3 linked regions of the Homo sapiens genome follow. The protein of the gene in region 1 interacts with the protein of each later gene in a pairwise test. Each region holds a gene or a part of one and is shown on either strand. Other genes may lie near its edges.

Region 1 (7,482 bases):
CAAACTAATAGAACCCAGAGGGGATTGTGGGAACCCCAACTTGAAGCTTTTTGGTTAGATGTTCTGGAGGCCCAGACTTGTGACTGGTTGTGTAGCAGGACGAGCCACAGACAAAACCTCTCAGACACCGAGTTGTAGAAGGAAGGGCTTTATTCAGCTGGGAGCATCGGCAAGCTACTGTCTTAAAATCTGAGCTCCCTGAGTGCACAATTTCTGTTCCTTTTAAGGGCTCACAACACTAAAGATTTCACATGAAAGGGTCGTGATTGATTTGAGCAAGCAGGGAGTACGTGACAGGGGCTGCATGCACCGGTGGTCAGAGTGAAACAGAAAAGAGCAGGGAGTTTCACAGTGTTCTTCCATACAATGCCTGGAATCTATGGGTAACATCGGGTTCTAAGTCATGAGTTAATTTTTAACTACTAGGTTTAGGCCAGGCAGGCCCAGGCCTGGTTTTGGACCTGGCGCCGGGCTGCCTGTCTTTGATTTCACTTCCTTGTTTTTTTCTTAAAACAGGTACTGAGTATAAAACAATATAAAACAATATGAGAGGGTCTCTCTCTTCCCTCAGGTGGGGCCATGGGGTTTGTGGTACTGAGCTCTTAACCTTTGAGATCTAACACTATCTCCTGATAGTGTTGGAAAGTTGAATTAGAGGATACCCGGCTCCTCTCCACTGCAGAACTTAACTTCTTGCTTGGTGTGTGGGGAGAAACTCCCACACATTTGGTCACACAAGTCTTCATGTTGATTGTTGTGGTGTGAGAGCAGAGGAAAAACAGTTTGAGTTTTTCACTCTCAGACAGCACAGTGATTCTTCATAAAACTCTATGACTACACCAACGAGCATTGGCAAAGAACAAAAAATTATTCGATGTCTTTTACCAGTTCCATAAACTGGCAGTGATTCATAGCATTTACACATATATTCGTAATATTCTTAACAAGTATATCCATGATACCTTTTCATAGTCTGCTTTAGAAAGTCCTGCATAGTATTTTCCACTTAATTCTGCATCAGTAGTATAGCTTCTTTTAATTTAAAAACTTGTCCATTCTATTTTTAAACTAGAAAGATAATTTTATTGTAATATAATCAAACAGTAATAAATATTTCAGATTAATCATCAATTACAATTTACATAGGTTATCACTAATTTGTGCTGTCTGCATTGAGGACTAAGCTCTGATTTTTTTTTTTTTAATCTTGCCTAAATTCCTATCTAAGGGGTCTGGGGAATCATGCTCTGTAAACCATACATTCTCATCAGATGGTTTTATTTAACCCTGTATATCATGACTTACTTTCCGATCTGACTCTGGCATAACATGGAAGAAAATAAAAATATTTTACCCCAAAACATGTTTCTCTGCCATATCTTGAAATGGTCGTGCAAAGCCATCCCTTGTGGGAAAAATCCACATTCTATAGAGAATCCACTTTCCCCTTGTTTTCCTTCCTTCCTTTCTAGATCCAGGAGATAATCAAGTAAGAGCCAGGCACTCTTTTAGGTCTGATAATAAACAATATACAACCTGTTCTCTCTGAAGTCTGCTATCTGAGAGCTTCCTCTGCACAATAAAACTTGGTGCCTACAATCCTTTATCTTTACCTGAACATACATTTCCTTTCTATTGATCCCAGGTCTTCAGATAAACTCAACCAATTGTAAACCAGAAAACGTTTATAGCCTGGAACACCGCCCCCGCCGCCACCCCGCCCCCGCCTTGAGTTGTCCCGCTTTTCTGAACTAAACCAATGTATTTCTTAAATATATTTGGTTGATGTCTCATGCCTCCCTAAAATATATAAAAGTAAGCCATACGCCACCCACCTTGGCACATGTTCTTAGGGCCACCTGAGGGCTGTGTCTTTGGCCATGGTCACTCATATTTGGCTCAGAATCAATCTCTAAAAATATTTTATACAGAGTTTGACTCTTTTCGTTAACAGCGTGATATATTCAAACACACTATGATCTGCGTCTTTCATTTTAATGCTGCCTGGAGTAGACCATGATATGGATGTATTGTATGCTTTTAACTCCAACTGATGTGCTTTTAGATTGCTTCCACTGTATGCAACTGCAAAGAATGCTTCGTTGCTCCCGTGTGCATTTTATTTTTCTAAGGTATATTCTGAGACATAAAATTACCACAATTTTAGAAGATTTCCTACTCATGTAAAATATTAGTAGATACTTCCAGATCACCATCCAAAATGTCATTTTACACTCCCTTCAGTGGTACAGAAGAGTACTCTTTCCCTTCTATCCTTTTCCACTCTTGGAGTCTTCTTTTTTTTCTTTTTTTGAGGCAGGGTCTCGCTCTGTCACCGAGGCTGGAGTGCAGTGGCATGATTATGGCTTAGTGCAGCCTCAACCTCTTGAGCTCAAGTGATCCTTCCACCTCAGGTTCCCGAATAGCTGGAACTACAGGCATATGCCACCACACCTGGCTAATTTTTGTATTTTTTGTAGACATGGGGTTTCTCCATGTTGCCCGGTCTGGTCTTGAACTCATGTGCTCAAGTAATCCTTGGCCTCTCAAAACTGTTGGATTACAGGCCCATGTGCCACTGAGCCTGGCCTCACTCTTGGCATTTTAAGTCTTAAAAAATTTTGCTAATCTAGGAATGAAAATCATTTTTAGTATACATTTCCCTGATAACTAGTGAGATTGAACATTTTTTCATATTTTAGTAGTGTTTCATTCTTAACATAATACCTGTATTTCTTCTGAAAATAACAAAATAATTATCTAAAGTATATACCCTGTGTTCTGTAATACCTGTATTTCTTCTGAAAATAACAAAATAATTATCTAAATAAAGTATATACCCTATGTTCTTTCTTTGGTTCTCTTTTAATGTTCCAAAAGCTCAGAAAATGCTAGAATGATTTTGAGTACCTGTGGTCCAGTTGTTGTTGGGGCAGGTCGATTTTCTTTTTGCATCTCTATGGACAAGAATCATTTGCATTACTGATTTCTACAATTTACAGAGCTGTGAAACTGCTCAAAGACAATGAAAGGGTAGAACTATTATGGAATCAAATTACTCAGTAGCGTATACCAGACAACATCTAGCATTCCGTAGAACATCCAGCAATCTTTCACTGTTTTCTGAAAGATAATACACTTAAAGCTTTTAACACATTGGCTCACAGTGAGAGCTCAGTAAATGTAATTTGCTTCTCCATTGTTAAAAGAATGAAAAACAAGATAATTGAGAATTTATAGCATTTCTGTGGAACTACAGTTCCCTGGATAGGTGCTGTATCTAGATTCATTTTTGATTTCATTGGGTCTTGCACAGTGCCTGGGAGCATTTATATACGTGGTCAGTAATTAAAAACAATTTATTTTTCCTACCTCTTAATAACTATCACAGTTGTTCAGTAATAGTTTTATTGGATAGAACTATGTTCAAGTATGTTCTAATTTATTCCCCTATCTGGAAAAATATGTATATTGTGAGAAAATAGGTTTGTCTTGCTTACATTATTATGTATCATATATTTTCATACTGGGGTTAACAAATATATTCTAAGCACCGAAACTGGTGGCCTTGAAAATGGCTAGACTAGCTGTTTCCTTTCATAGTCCAAACTGTGTGAATATAGCTAAATAAAAAATCTGGCTCTATTATAATAGCAAATGTGATTTTGTATGTGGAGTCTTAAGGCGTGATTATACTGTTTCTCACCATGAACAGTGATTTTTTACACATGATAAGGCAGGCTAGCAAATTCACATACATTACGGCTAGAATAATCCATTGCTTTAAAAACATGATTTTTACCTGCTTTTTAGATTGAGTGTTCTATAAAAATTTTTTCTTAAGTGAAAAAAATATGCAGAGGCTAATGTAGACTGTAAAATGAAGGAGAAGCTTAGCTTTACTGTGGAGTCTGGGTCTGGGTGTAACCTAACTAGCTAGAGGATATGCAATTCCTGATTGACAGCAGATCCAGCATTATGCAGATTTTGTAAGGGAGAACACTCAGCTCAGAAACAGTGATGAGAGGCTCTGTTAGGAATTACTACATTCACTACTCATATCTTTTAGTTTTCTGTCTACTGGATTTGTAAATAAATAGCACAAAACAGTTCCTCTTTTGTTTTTATTAAAGTGATACTGCAATGCAGTTCAGTCTGTCAGCTAGGCATACATGTGTGAAATTTGATATTCTCACTAAATTAGCTAATTTTTAGCTGTGTTCCATGCTTATCTCTAGACCTTTGTGTATTAAATCCTGTCTCGAGCTGTTCCCTTTATACACAAGTGTGTTTTGCTTGTGCCTTCCTGTCTTCTTCAGTGAGAAGCTTTATGTAGGTCAGGCTTGGCTTAAGCAGATTTCCTGAACCTGCGTCAGCTTAAGCTGGAGGAATTTTAATAAACCCTCCCCTGTAGGCGTGGGCCTAAATGAGGCTAGCCTAGTTAAGCCTGATCTTTTTCTGTTTGTGAAAAGAGCTGAGCAGAGCTGAAGGCTGCATGGTGGTTTCAGAAACTGCCTACTTAATTTGAAAAGAACAATGGTAGGAAAGGCTAGATCTTCCAATTTTACCTTATCCGAAAAGCTTGATTTGCTAAAGCTTGTGAAGCCATATGTGAAAATTCTCGAAGAACACACTAATAAACATTCAGTAATAGTAGAAAAGAATAGATGTTGGGATATCATAGCAGTTAACTATAATGCAATTGGAGTAGACCGCCCTCCTCGAACAGCACAGGGCCTACGCACCCTTTATAAAAGGCTCAAAGAATATGCCAAACAGGAGCTATTGCAGCAAAAAGAGACCCAATCAGATTTTAAAAGCAATATTTCTGAGCCAACCAAGAAAGTTATGGAGATGATTCCCCAGATTTCCAGTTTTTGCCTGGTAAGAGACAGGAACCACATACAAAGGTAAGCTTTATTTTGTTTTGTTATGGAAAATTATGGCGCCTCCTATCTATTGGGCTTTGGCTTAGTCGTGATAGAGATATGCATAGTAAGCATCCCCACAACGGGAGCAATGAATAGTGTCTTTGTTTTGCATTTTTTAAAAAGAGAAAAGTGAGGCTATGAGGAATTTTTCTGTTGCATTTAAGCTACTTTTTACTGTCTTCCCCTCCCCCTTCCCTCCTGTAGTTTCTAAAAGTAAAGGTTAGGGAGGAATAAGTGGGTTGAAATTTGTGACATCACTTCATAAACTTCTTAAGCTTTAAAATTAAATTATTTAGTTTGCTTCTGAGAGATACTTTTTTTCTCATTTAAGATTACATTTCACTGGAATTTTCAATTTTATATAAAATTTATATAAAGTTAGCAGTTTCTAGAGAAATGGAACCTTGCTTTTTTATGAATTGTCATTGTCTACACTTATTGAATATATGTTAACTAACAAATATAAACAAAATCAATAAGTAAACTTGTTAATGGCATGATTGTGTATATGAAGACAGTTTAAATTATTTTTCTAACACGTTTAAAATAAAGATGAACACAACTAAAGGGAGTTAATGCCTAATTAGGGATTCAGTTTACTTAATAAAATTAAAAGTTTTTTGTTGTTGTTGTTTTTATTCCTTAATAGTCTAGTTTCACTTTGATCTTGGGTCGTATAGGAAAGAGTAAGCTTTCTCTTACTGCTTTGCAAGGATATCAAATTATGAATTTTAAAATACCCCTAAGAGCAACTGGGTTTTTTTAGAGTTAGAAGCAATTTTTTGGTTAAACTTGTCTTCTATGTAACTATTTGCCTTGGAATTTTCAAAAGTATTATCTTGCCACTAATTCAGATTGTAACCTCTGGCAAAATATAAAAATGGCAGCTACATTCTTATTCTGAACCATTTAGGGTAATTTAAACAAATTGTAAACTCCTTGTTAGTTTGAGGAGCCTTTCAAACAAAGCTTTACACAATGTGCTTTTCTATTGGTGGAAGAGGCATTATATAAGCAAATTATTGATTACTATGAAATCCCTTTGAAATTAGGAGAGAAGCAGAAAAAAACCACTTTGTAGCCAAGTGCATATGTTATTTTGGTAATTTACTAGGAAAGTATTTTTGAGCCTAGCTTCTTACCAGATACTGCTTATTTCTACTTGATAGCACAGTAAAAAAAATATCACCAGTGGGAATCCAGGACATGAATACACAGTGGATTAATTCTTGGGGCCACTGGTTAAAATGTTCACTGTGATGACAAATGATGAAATCCCAATAGCTAGATATCCAGAAAACTACGCAGTAAAATTGTTTTATACTGTGCTACTTATGCAGAATTTTCTCTCCCTTGAACCATGGAGAAAAGTGTTTTTTGCATCGCAGGTATAAAACTGTACCCTTTGGTTAGTAGGTATAGGTTTTTATAATTTGAAAACGACATGTAGAAACTGTAATTTTAGTTAGTTGCATATTTTAAAAATAACAGTGAGTAGAAGAAAAATAATATATAAATATACAAGTATCTGGTTACATTTTGACTATTTGTGTGTGTGAATATTTACAATATTCACACACAAAAAATCTTTTGGGATATGAACATTTCTCTGATAAAAATGAGTTGATTTGTACATTTCTATACCTATGGCTTAAATAATACCAATTTGTTAGGTTTTAAAGGGAAGAATATAAGAAACATGCCTTTTAAATTCTTATGTTACTGTGTCTACATTGACATTTTCTCTGTATTAGCTTATTTCTTTAATATATATATTTAATGTGCTTATATTTATTTGATTGATATCATCCTTGAATCTTAATAATCTCAGAAGTTTATAATTATTCTATAATCTTAACTATACTTCTACATAAATATGCCTGTTAATCTTACCAAACTCTTCCTTTTTAATAAGGAAAATACTAGTGTTTGCGTTAACATACTTAAAAATATATACCTGTTTTGTAAGGCTATTTATTTTCTGTAACTCACATTGACTTATGTCTTTATTTTTACCTCTTCCTAATATCAGTTTATATTTTGTGTTTTTGTAAACTGATCTTCAAAGTTCTGATTCTCAAGTCCTTCTCTGTCATTTTTGTGACCTGCTCTAAAGCTTTTTTTCTCCCTTTTTATATTGTTATGCCTTAGTTGTAATGTTTTAGCTAAAATGGAAAGGAATGTTCCAGATATGAGGCATATTTTTAATTTACTTGGTAGTATTATGTCTATGTTTATACTCTCTATTTTACATACTAATTTGAAATAGTAATTATGTGGTTTTAAAAACTTAATTTTCATATGCAATTTTAGCCTTTTCCCATTCCAGGTTTTAGCAGAGCTATTAATAGAAGCAGAGCTTGCTACTTTGAATTACATTTATAATTAATTGTTTTGTTTTTGGAAATAATAAAATGACACAAACAGAGACAAGAACAAAAATGAATTTATATAACCTACAAATAGATTTTTTATTATATACTATATATGTTTCATTTTGTCTCTTAGATAAATATCTGATATTTCTGGCAATTTAATGGCATTAGTAAGT
Region 2 (7,568 bases), on another chromosome or scaffold:
GTAACTGCTCCCATGAATCAATTACCTCCCACCAGGTCCCTCCCACAACACATAGGCATTATAGGAACTACAATTCAAGATGAGATTTGGGTGGGGACACAGCCAAACCATATCAACCAAGAGGTGACTGAAGCCAGACTTTCTGGTCCTTCATCATTCCTCCACTAAATGTTGCCATAAATCTATGGTAGAATAACATACCTTCTAGAGAAATTAGCAAAATGGACAAATGGTATAGAAAAGGAGAATAAGAGGTATGGAACTGATCTGGAGATTACTACAGGTACAAGAAGGTGTTAAATGGGATATTTCCTGACTCAGAGTTTTGTCCAAGGCCCCAAAGGTGAGAGCACAATGTTAAGTGTCTGCTGGTTCTAATGAGAGATGTTAGACCATTTACCCAGGGCTTACTAAATGATGAGCCAAAAACTCCTGTCACCCATGCCCGTTTGCCACTCTTCAGCTTATGTACAGGAGAAGGCAACAGTGAAAGAGGGTTGTTACAGTTCTGGAAGCTTCCTTCCCACCCCCACTCCAAGGCAAGTGAGGGTGACTTTGAGAGAACCACTCAGAGAGATTGACAGGTGCCCCTGTTGTAGAATGGTGTCTGACTCTCCAAAAAAAAAAAAAAAAAAAAAAAAAAAACAATAAATAGGCGAGAAGCCAGCTAGAGCTACCTAAGACCAACTGTGAAGATGACGAGAAGGGCTGCAGAGGGAACAGCCCTGCTTCCAGGGCTGGGCGGGGAGCAGGGCCGCTGGGTTGTTCCCATGGGCTAAGTGCACATCAAGCAAGCAGCTGGGCCTAGGCTGTCTTGGAAGGACCCTGACCAACAGGCCTGCAGGTGAGGTAACCCGACAGAAAAAGTTTGTGTGGGATGTGCTACCAAAAGCAGGAGCCAGCGGTTAACCAGAGGGTGCAGCATCTGAACCATGGAATGGGTAATAAGGGGCTACCAGCAAAGGGAGGGTCCTCCAAAAAATCTCCAAAGTGGGCCCCTCCAAAGAACAAAAGAGGTATTAGGTTGGTTTAAGCAATCTGTGGCCCACCAGCCAGGGACTGCCTGACCCGTTGAACTAGCTCTTCTGGAAGCCTCTGGGGATGTTCACTGGAGATACCATGTTCGCTGCTTCTCTGTCATTTCACCTGCATAAGTCTGAGAAATATGTTGCAGAACTTAAACATAAAGTTTCTGTTTCTATAATGTATGACTTTTTGTTCTATTTCCTAATATTCTGTAACTCCTGAGATTTCAAGGGAACTCTTCATCGTTTTAATCCCATGCCTTATGTACTGTGACTTATAAGAACATCCCCAGTTAAGCCCAGTGTCTGGTCCTGGTGTTTTATCAGGAAATGAACACCGGCCGGCACCTCAGAACCCAGAAAGAGGCAGTTTCTATGACCTCATTCCATGGAAAACATCTGTAACTGTTCCCTCAGCAATGTGTAACATTAGCCTCTGGAGAAGGCCCATAAGATTTTGTCTCTCTTCCGTGGGAATTTGCAGGAAAGGGCTGTCTGCATGAGCTCAGAATATCTATTAATATATTGCCACTCAGAGACTTAATAAGGATTGAAAAGAGGTTTCCGCTGCACTAAGGGAAATTTATCAAAGAGAATTCCAGAGTATTGAAGCAGCTGAAAGATGATTTTAAAACAAAGGCCTGAAAACTATGCATGATAAATTATCATAGATGTGAGTACTTTTATAGGTATTCCATTTTTAAATTGCCCAAAAGAACAAACTTTTCAGCAACCTCTTTAGAATCCACTGGCAGCCCTAGATTCATTCCAGATGAACTCAGCCAGAAATTTCTACAGCAATGAGCATGTTCTATATCTGTGCTATCCAATATGGTACCCACTAGCCACAGGTGGCTATTGAGAACTTGACATTTAGCTAGTGCAACTGAGGAACTGAAGTTTAAATTTTATCTGAATAGCCACATGTGGCTACTGTAGTAGACAAGGCAGGACTACGCAGTAATTATAGCTTGCCTCTTAGTTGAAATAATGGTCTTATCCTTCACACCAGAGAAAACACTAGGTTGTTTTTGATTTTAGACTTTTGAGTAATTTCTGTTTTTTTCTTCAGCATAGAGTTCATGAGAAATTGATTATAATATGCCTCAAAGCTCTAATGACCACTTCTGTAGTAACTTCTAGTTTCCAAACTGACTCCTTCAGATTGAGCCTTTCATAGTTTGAGTGCCATTGTTTTGACAAATATCAGATATTTTAAGAATTGCATGTTACAAATCTGATCACAAAGAAAGTATTTTTCCTAGGTAACTGTCTAAAACTAGAGATGGTTGGTCTAGGAGCCAATAGTCCTTCGGATTTTTAAATCAGTGTTTACAAAGTGGGGCAAGAGTACTCATAAAATGAACCAAAAAAGTAACAATGAGAAGAGAAATACCATTAAAGCATGTTAAATTAAATAAGCAGGAGGCTATTGGCTCAAGGCTGTCTCTGTACTTTGATTTTCTACACAATGAATTGCAATTTAACTTAGTACATAAATACACTGAAAGCTTAACCTAAGGAAGAGTATAATAAACAGCCAAGTCTCAGCCAAACACAAGCAGACAAGCTTCAGCCAATCACAAGCTGCCAACTTCTCAGATCATATCCAAATGATCTGATCATTGATTGCAACCAATCAGCCTATTTCTGTATTTTACTTCCATTCTCTGTCTATAAATACTCACGGCCCACAAAGCTCTCTGAACCTATTCTGATTCTGAGTGCTGTCCGATTCATGAATCATTCTTTGCTCACATAAACTCTGCCAAATTTAAATTACGTCAATTTTTTTTTATTTTAACAGGCAAAAGTAAAGATTATCAAGCATTCTTTTCCAACCAAACTTTAGTCAGTCTCCTGACTAGGCCTATCTGTGCACTTCCTTGTAAAATCCAGTTTTAGCAAAAAGCCTTGATAAATCAGTTTAGCCAAAAGCAACCACCCTCAATATCTGATCACCCTTAATATCTGATTTGGTTCCTCATCCTCCACCAACCTCCAGGTGACATCTGATCACCCTGGCCCGTCTTCAGCAAGAATCTTGTCAGGTTGGTTTAGACAGAATCCCCCTTACCCCTGATGTTTCCTCTTAATAATTTTCCATCCACTGACCCCCCTACCTTGCTCCTTGGCTATAAATTCTCACTTTTCCATGCTACAATTGAAGTTGAGCCCAATCTCTCTTCCCCACTGCAAGACCCTGTTGCAGTGGTACCTATGTCTATCTCAATGGTCCTGAATAAAGTCTTCCTTACCATGCTTTAACAAGTGACAAGTGTCATTAAATAATTTTTTTTTTTTGAGACCAAGTCTTGCTCTGTCGCTAGGCTGGAGTGCAATGGCTCGATCTCAGCTCACTGCAACCTCCGCCTCCCGGGTTCAAGCGATTCTCCTGCCTCAGCCTCCCAAGTAGCTGGGATTACAAGCACGTGCCACCACGCCTGGCTAATTTTTTGTATTTTTAGTAGAGACGGGGTTTCACCGTGTTAGCCAGGATGGTCTCGATCTCCTGACCTCATGATCCGCCTGCCTCGACCTCCCAAAGTGCTGGGATTACAGGCATGAGCCACCACGCCCAGCCAAATAATTTTTTCTTTAAAAAGGTATTATATAATCCTTAAACATTTTAGCCCTATAATAGACAGCAAGAAAAAAGTAACCCCTGACAGCTCTGAGCTGCCCCGGCAGTCACAGCTGGGCCTTGGTGCTGCGTGGAACATAAATACTTCACAGAACACCATCAGACGTGGCCACTCTTTGACCAGATGGATCAAGACAAAAACAAGACTCCTTCGTAATCACGTGGGAATGCTGAAAAAACGTAAACATTGTCCAAACCACAAAAATGACCAAACATCCCCTATCCCAGTTAATGAGTCACTGGTCTTGTCTCCCCTCCTTTTAGGTAAGATTTATTATGATACTTAATCATACAATCGCCCTCCTTCCTGCCAGCACCCAGTCCAGAGTATTGGATTGGATACTCTGTTTCCCTGAACCTTTCCCCAAATTACCTTGGGGTAAGGCATCAGCAAAGGAGGCTGTCACATTCGTTCAACCATCACTGTGCTTTTACTGGCCCTTTGCAGGCAAAGAATGAGAATATGCACAGATGAGAAGTCCAGGATGCACAAGACCACTCAATTAACATTTACTACTTTCATATCAACTGATGCATGCTAGGATGCTAAAAACACTTTTTGAATTAATTACTGCGTTAAATAGATTCACATTTATGTCTACAGTTATGTGAACATCTAGCTGAGCACTGTCTTGACTGTCCTGAGTAGAAGCAGAAAAGATAAGTTGTAAAGTACATCAACAAACTTTGCTGCTAAAAAACGAAAGTGCAGTTTCTTTCTCTCGGGCCCGGGGCGGGGCCATGGCTCCTCCTCTAGGAAGCCGCGCGAGCGCAGTCCCACGGCAGCCATTTCCCTAGCGCGCATGCACTGGGTCCCAGGACCACGTGCGCCGGCCTGTGGGCTTGGATTGGCTGAGCCTTGACGTTGTCCCAGTCCCGGTGATCGGAAGTTCTCCGTGGGCACTGGGCGGCTGAAGGCTCCGGAACTGCGCCTGCGCTTTTCGGTGAGTCATGCTTCAGGTTTGCCAGGGCCTGTGTCCCGCAAAAAGGCGAGCCCTTATTCCCAGCGGAAGCCCACCCCGGCTCGCGGCAGCTTTCCGGTGCGCCCTGGGCGGCGTAGATCCGAAGGTGCTCGCACCCCCGCCCCTTCCTCTCCGACTGTCGAGGTCGCCAGAGTGGGCTGAACCCTCGGGACTGTCGCTGTTTGTGTGCTGGGTGCCGGGCCGTCATCCCAAGATGATTAGCGGCAGGCTTTGCATGTTGCTCGACCCCACCCACCGGAACTCGAACCCGGGCTAGACCGGGCAGTTGGGCTGGTCCCTTCCTCTCGCTGCACCTTTACTAGGGGTCACCATTAAGGGAAATGGTCCTAGTGCAGTGCTGAGTGGCTGTTCAGTAACCGCTACACCGCTGCCAACATTTGGCATCGTTTCTCTCCATAGAGGGCGGGGCTCCCTGTGAAGCTGGGGAGCTGTTAAGTGGGTTAGGGCTAGAAAGTTACAGTTTCTCTTTAGGCTTTAAAGAGATCTAAAGATCTGAACAGATCTAGGTTATTTTTGACTTGTTACAAACTTCTGGAAACATTGTTTCCAGACCTTTCCTCTCGTTCTTCTCAGGGTTTAGGCCATTTTTGTGCAGATGTGTGCACCTTGCTTACTATAATATTAGCTAATCTTTATAAGTTTTTATATGGATCCAATACCATATTTCGTGCCTACTTTTCCTGGCACTGTATACACTTTTTGGTATAGGTATGCACCTAAGCAAGCATTATCCATATTAGCATCAGTTCTAGAACCGTGGCGTCCCAATAATGATAGCCATTAGTTACATAAGGCTTGATCACTTGAAATGTGGCTAGTCCGAATTGAGATGTGCTGTAAGTGTAAGACACAGTGAATTTTCGAGAATTAGCATGAAAAAGAATGTAAAATATCTCAATTTGTTTATATTAATCACATGTTGAAATGACTATTCTGGATACACTGGGTTAAATAAAATGTATAATTAATTTCACCAATTTTTATTTTTTAACATGACTACTGGAAAATTTTAAATCATATTTGTGGTTTACATGTTATATATATGTTGCACAGCCCTGCTCTAGAAAAGGGTCAACAAACTATGGCCTGCAGCCAAATCCAGCCTGCCTGTTTTTGTAAACAAGTGTTACCAGAGCAAGATCATGCCTATCCATTTATGTTATTTTCTGTATCTGCTGTTGCTGCTACAATAGCAGCAGAGTTGAGTAGTCCATAGAGATTGTATGGCCTACAAAGCCTAGAATATATACCTTCTGATCTTTAACAGAAAAAGTGTGCTGACCCCCTGCTGTAGAACAATGCCTGGTTTGGTAGATATTTTTAAGCCTTTTAATTGTAGATTCACATCCTATTATTCACACTTACTGTGTGACAGCCATAGTTCAAAGCACTTTATCAAGACTTTCATTTAATTCTCATTAATCCTAGGATGTTGGATTTCTCCCATTTTGTAGATGAGGAAATTGAGGCACAGAATGGTCAAGAAACTTATCCAACTTGCTCAGCACCCCTCACTTCTGGGAACTGGACCTGCTTGACCTTCCTTATGCAAATGTTTTGACCCCTCAAACCCACTTCATTAGCCCACAGTGGGCACCATGGTTTTTTTGTTTGTTTGTTTGTTTGTTTTGTTTTTTTTAACAAGATTTATTTGAACTAGAATTTTTGAATGATTTTTTTGAACTAGAATCGAGATGGGCTTGGTCTCCTACGAAAGAAGCCAAGGGGCACTGGGCTTAGGTGCAATGAGTACAAGCAAGCTGGTGTGTAGTGAAAAGAAATGAAGCTCCCAAGCAGAGAAGAGAGAGAGCATCCTGGATGCTCATTACTCATTTAACAACAACAAAAATGTGTTAAGTAATAGTAAGCACTGACTGGGTGTTTGCTAGGTGTGTATAGGTGAATAAAACATGTGGATCTTCTCTTATGGTCTTGTGGGGAAGGCAGTAAAAACGTTTTTTAAATGTGATTAACACCATGAAAAAAACTTGCAAATTATTTACTGTTTTTAGCAGGTTTCCTCACCTGTAAGATGAAAATAAGCCATTATCTGTATTGCAGGAGTATTGTGAGGATTGAGATGACTGGAGTGTGTGTGGCCTGGAGAGTTGCTCAATAAATATATGTTGCCTTCCACTGTGAAGAGGTAAGTGAGAGGGTGAATATCAGGAATTGTGTACATTATGACACTTAAAATATTACAGTTGTCATTTGTAATTTGTAGAGAAGGTTGTCAGCTGCATTGTACACAGTAGGTGTTTTAAATCTTTTCTGACTGAATGGGACTCATCTAGAAAAGCCAGTCATAGAGTTGTCTGCATTCGGTCCAGGAGCAGAACCAGAGCTGTCTTTGGGGCTGATGGCAGCCTAACTGGCAGGTCCTGCTGGGGTGTGGAAGAGGGTTGTATGCCTGTGTGTGGTTTAAATCAGAGTCACCCTGGAGAGCTGAGCCAATATGCAGGCCCTACCCTCAGAGATCCTAATTCATCCTATCTGGAGTGAGGCCCTGCCATTGTTTGTTTTTGTTTTTTGTTGTTTAATTTCCCCAGAGGATTCTAATGTGCAGCCAGGCTTGAGAACCACTAATGGTGAGAGATCAGCCAGGCTCGGGATGCTGCTTGAGCAAAGGCACAGAGCCGTGCCCATCAGTGGTTGCGAGTAGTCAAGAGGGAGGCCTGCTAGGGCTCTTTTTGCCACTGGCCAAGGAGCTTTGGCTCCATCATGAAAGCAAGGGGAAACCTCTCAAGGGCTTTCAGCAGGAAAATGAGGGAGTATCTTTCTGAGATCTGTACTAGAGGATGATCCCTCTAACAAAGTGCCAGACTCACAGTTGGGCCTTGTGAGTGCCAGAAGTACAGTGAAGGCAGTAAAGAAGCAAATTGTAGCTGTCCAGATGATGGCGAGCCCAGATAGGGT
Region 3 (4,679 bases), on another chromosome or scaffold:
CCTGAGGACCCTCCAGAAGAGCAGAGTGCAGGCAGGGCATCCCAGCTCCACCATGTCACCCCCGCAGCCCTGGTGTCATCTGTGACAGTACCTCACAGTGCCTTCGAGGAACAGTTCAGGGAGACAGTGCATGGGAAGCGTGGAGAGGCACCCAGCATGCGATCAGTGCCCTGTGAGCAGGGTTGATGCCATTACCTTACTCAGGCTGGCAAGGACACAGGGCTGAGAGAGCCTGTCTGCCTGAGAACCACTCTTCCCCCCTGCCCTCTTACTGGCCTGACACCAGAAAGTAGCGCCTGCCTCCTGGGACACTAGAGGTGGCTATGTCAGGAGGACCCTTAGGACTCCTGGGTGGGAGATGAGCGGAAACATGCACATCAGGTGACCTTGTCAAGCCTGTCCAGGCTTTTAGCCCAGAAACAACTTCTATTTTCTACTTTCTAGAGTAAATCATTTGTTTTAGAACAGTAGGAACAAATAGAAACAACCAGCTTAGACCACAATTGTTTCAAAAGATTGTTTGATTAAAAGCCAGCCAAAAAAAAGCCTTCAGGCTGAGGCTGAAGAACACAAATAGAGTTGTCTGTGGATTACATGATTGTTTCCCCAGTGCAAGGTTCCTGACCACAGGCAGCAGATATCCAAACACGCCATGGGAGATAAGCTGTTTAACCCTCTGGAACCTAGACAAAACAGGAAGAATGGAGAAGTGCAGAGGCATACGTGAAAACAGGGCTCAGCACATTTCCAGGGTGGAGAAATATTTAATAAAATCAGAGTCGAGAGAAAGTCACTTGCACAATTCATCTCCTACATTCACTGCTGGCCAGGCCAGGGGCACCTGGGTTGAAATCAGGCTGACCTCCGGACAGCCGTACTAGCGCACTGTGTCTCGGGGGGAATCTCAGGGTGACGCTGAGGCCGAGTCCCCAAAAGCCAAGGAAGCCAGCCCCACAGGCTGGGGAGCCCTGAAGGCCGGGGGAGCTGTGGCTGCACTGCCTCTATCCTGCTGAGTGTGCTCTGCCCAGGCCTCACTCCTTCAGGAGCTTGTGCTTGACTGTGGTGCTCTCGGAGCAGAGATGGATGAAGAGGGTGCCGGCGGCGGTGCGGGCCCGCAGCTCCTGCAGCTCATAGTCATGGGCCCACTCAATGTTGCCCCACTTCTGGATCTGAGGGAAGGACAAGACAAGTTGCTGGGTGAGTGGCCAGTGCCTGGCTGCCTCCTGACCAAAGCCACGTTCCATTCCAATAGGTTGGCTGAGGGCAACAGGTTTGTATCTTGCCAAAACACATGAGACATGCCTAGGGGGAGGTGGCAGGTAAGAACACCCAGGTACGCCAGACACGGTGGCTCACGCCTGTAATCCCAGCACTCTGGGAGACCGAGGCAGGAAGACTGCTTGAATCCAGGAGTTCAAGACCAGCCTGGGCAAATATGGTGCAACCTCGCCTCTACAAAAAGGTTTAAAAATTAGCTGGGTGTGGTGGGGGTGCACCTGTAGTCCCAGCTATTTGAGAGACTGAGGTAGGAGGACTGCTTTGAGCCCAGGAGGCTGAAGCTGCAGTAAGCCAAGATCACACCGCTGCACTCCCACTTGGGCAACAGAGCAAGACCCTGTCTCAAAAACACCACACACACACACACACACACACACACACACACACACACCCCACCACCCCACCCCCAGGGAGCCGGAGCAGGCACCTGTGCTCTCTGTGGCATGGATGGTCTGGAAGAAGTGCAGTCCAGGCCCAGGCCCAGGGCCAGTGGCTGCCCACCCACCACTGGGCAGGCTGGGTACCAGAACCACCCATGTGACTTCTTTGAGGAGGCCTTATGTGCCATCCCTTCTCCTACACTTCCTCCCAGAAAGCCTGTGAATGGACAGCCTCTCCAAGTTGCCTTGCCATGCTGGGCTACAAGTGCCCCCCAGCGCCATGTGGGTGGAATAACTAAATCAAGTAAGGCCACGCAGTGGCTTCAACTCTGACTCTTGTGGTAGTCACAGAACTACAGATGCCTCTGCTCTGCACACTGGGGACAAGTTGCAGATTCTCTGTCTGGAGCTCTAAAAACAAGAGGGAGGAACGCTCAGACACACGATGTGGCTGTCCAGACAGTGTAAGTCCAACCAAACCTTGCTGGCTCCTCCCTGGCTAGTTGCCCAAGAGGCCTGGCCTGGCCGCCCCAGCTCATCCAGGAACTCAGAATCCACCATGCTACACAAGCTATTTGAACTTCTGGGCTGCCTGGTCCCAAACTGTACAATTGTAATATGTCATCTGAAGAGTATTCCATACTTTCATTGTATACCATCACATACATAATTCAGGTTATTCCTCTGTTTGTAGAGGATCGAAACCAAAGTTCAGAGAATGATGGCCTGGCTTGGGTCCCATAGTCAGAAGCAGAGCCCAGACTGGCTTCCCACCAGCCCTACAAGTCACCCCCTTCCTATGTAATCAGTTCTGACATCCAGAGAATAGTAGCGGGCCTCCTTTGTTATACAAAAATAGTTTTTTCCCTGGCATTTTTCTGAGCAGAAGACTACAAGAACTAGGGAAATACATCACAAAAAGTTTTGTGTTTTTTTGTTTGTTTGTTTTTACCATATTAGGGACCAATTCATAATAGCAATTAACCTTCTGAGGTTGGTGGAATAACAATAAAAAGACTGCAAAGATGGCTATAATTTTCAGAGTTAAAAAATGCAAACCATACTGTGGCAAAACCTTAATTCTGAGCCCACTAAATCAAAACTTGTATACAAACAGCAGCTACCCCTATGCTCCTCTGCCAGCCAGATAAAATGTCAGGGTATGAAGGCTCAGCTGATGAAGGAGCACAAACGGGTTCTCAGTCATCTTGGCAGGGCCTGTTCTGCAGGCTTTATCAAGCCCAGATGGTCTTTATCCACCCGTGAACCTCCTTGTGCAGAGTGAGGCCTGACGGCCTTGGCCCTAAAATCACCAGACCTGGCTTCAAACCCCAGCTGGCACATTTTCCAGAGGTGCAACCTTGCACCTCCATTTCCTTCTGTGTAAAACAGAGATAACCACAGCTCCTACCTGCCCAGGCTGCTGAGAGGAGGTGAGATGGATACAATGCAGGAACACAGCGGTAGCACTTACTGTTATTTTTTTATTGTTATTATCTTACCTTTTTTTTTTTTTTTTTTGAGACAGGGTCTCACTCTGTCACCCAGGCTAGAATGCAGTGGCACAATCCTGGCTCACTACAACCTCCACCTCCCAGGTTCAAGCAATCCTCCCACGTCAGCTTCCCAAGTAGCTGAGACTACAGGTGCTAATTTTTGTATTTTTGTAGAGAGAGGGTTTTGCCATGTTGCCCAGGCTGGTCTCAAACTCCTGACCTCAAATGATCCATCCTCCTCAGCCACCCAAAGTGCTGGGATTACAGGTGTGAACCACCATGCCAGGCCTACTTGACAATACTTCTGCTGGTCCTTGATTTTGATTTCTGCGTGTACATAAAAGTAATAAAAGCCAAGTATGCATAACTATATTTCAGATGGGTTAGCTGCTCCCCCAAAGTGAGTCTGAACTAGGAAGGGGGAGGCGGGACCTGAGGTGCTGCTCCTCACCTGGTACTCCTCCTCCAGGCGTGACAGCAGCACGGCCTGCTCCACTGTCAGGCGCAGGTCAATCAGGCCCAAGGTTAGCACCATGGACTTGAGCTGGGCAGCTACAAACTCAATCCCTGCAGGGACACAAGCCAAGTCAGAACCCAAAACAGGGCAGCTGCCACAACCTACCCCTTGTGAGTCCCAGCAGCCCTAGCAGAGAACAGGAGTGAGTGGTGCAAAGAGCCATCCAGCGATTGTCCCACTCTTCTGAAAGAGCACTCTGGTCTTCCCTGGGGGTGATCCTCCTCTGCTCTTACCTAGTGAGACACATGACCCGAACTTGGCAAATCAGAGCTTTCCGCACCCAGTCTAGTGATTGGTTCATGGATGGACATGTGACCCAAGCCAGGGCAATGAGATTGAACTCAAGACTTCTGCTGGCGAAGTCGAAGGTGGAAAGGTGTGAGCCTAGAGCGTAGAGTGATTGGCTAGCATCAGAGCCACCCAGCCTCCACACTCAGCTAGCCCAGAACACTCTGTGCCTCTCCACTCACAGGACCTGGGGAGGGGCAAGTACAGGCTTCAGACACTGATGGCCTTCACAGCCACCTGCCAAGCCCACAAGAAACTCCATACATGCCTTGTAAAGCCCATGTGTTGTAAGATGCCAGGTGGCTGACGAGCACCTCCCGAGTTTTGGCAGGGATGCTGGGTCCCATTATGCTGGTGGAGGAGCTGATCTCCACGCCGTATCTGAAAGGAAAAGGGCTTCGGCATGTCTCTGTCATGCTGTAGCCCAAGAGCAGCCCACCTTTTGACTAGAAACAAAGGCCTAAGCTTCAGAGCATGTGTGTGCATTGGCCAAGGAGCTAGTCTTGACTACAGGAGCAACTGCCACCATGGTCAGTGGCCTCCCGACCTGATTTTCTGTCCCTCAAAAGCAAACTTGGAGGACCAAGAAACTGTGCTGAATGAAGGGATGGTTCCTGAGTCATGTGAGCTAGGGCTCGGTTATACGCAGCTGCCTGAAATGCTCATTCATTCACCTGGAATCTCCATCAAAAGGCCATCTGCCTTTTACATCTCTTTAAA

Evidence for each region.
Region 2: the proteins of FSBP (region 1) and TCEANC interact in binary tests that used the Homo sapiens proteins (3 or more experiments, as listed by UniProt).
Region 3: the proteins of FSBP (region 1) and ATPAF2 interact in binary tests that used the Homo sapiens proteins (3 or more experiments, as listed by UniProt).

What each region holds. Positions count from the first base shown.
Region 1 is NC_000008.11:94,433,923-94,441,404, reverse strand, and holds the start of FSBP (fibrinogen silencer-binding protein), read left to right. Parts: upstream 1-4,460; 5' UTR 4,461-4,536; coding exon 4,537-4,910; intron 4,911-7,482. UniProt on the Homo sapiens protein: Transcriptional repressor that down-regulates the expression of the fibrinogen gamma chain. Represses transcription of GSK3B gene promoter via its interaction with APBA1.
Region 2 is NC_000023.11:13,648,576-13,656,143, forward strand, and holds the start of TCEANC (transcription elongation factor A N-terminal and central domain-containing protein), read left to right. Parts: upstream 1-4,565; 5' UTR 4,566-4,613; exon of another isoform or gene 4,614-4,864; intron 4,865-6,713; 5' UTR 6,714-6,798; intron 6,799-7,568.
Region 3 is NC_000017.11:18,017,518-18,022,196, forward strand, and holds the end of ATPAF2 (ATP synthase mitochondrial F1 complex assembly factor 2), read right to left. Parts: intron 4,341-4,679; coding exon 4,228-4,340; intron 4,147-4,227; exon of another isoform or gene 3,905-4,146; intron 3,722-3,904; coding exon 3,606-3,721; intron 3,482-3,605; coding exon of another isoform or gene 3,443-3,481; exon of another isoform or gene 3,123-3,442; intron 1,170-3,122; coding exon 1,032-1,169; 3' UTR 504-1,031; downstream 1-503. UniProt on the Homo sapiens protein: Plays a role in the assembly of the F1 component of the mitochondrial ATP synthase (ATPase).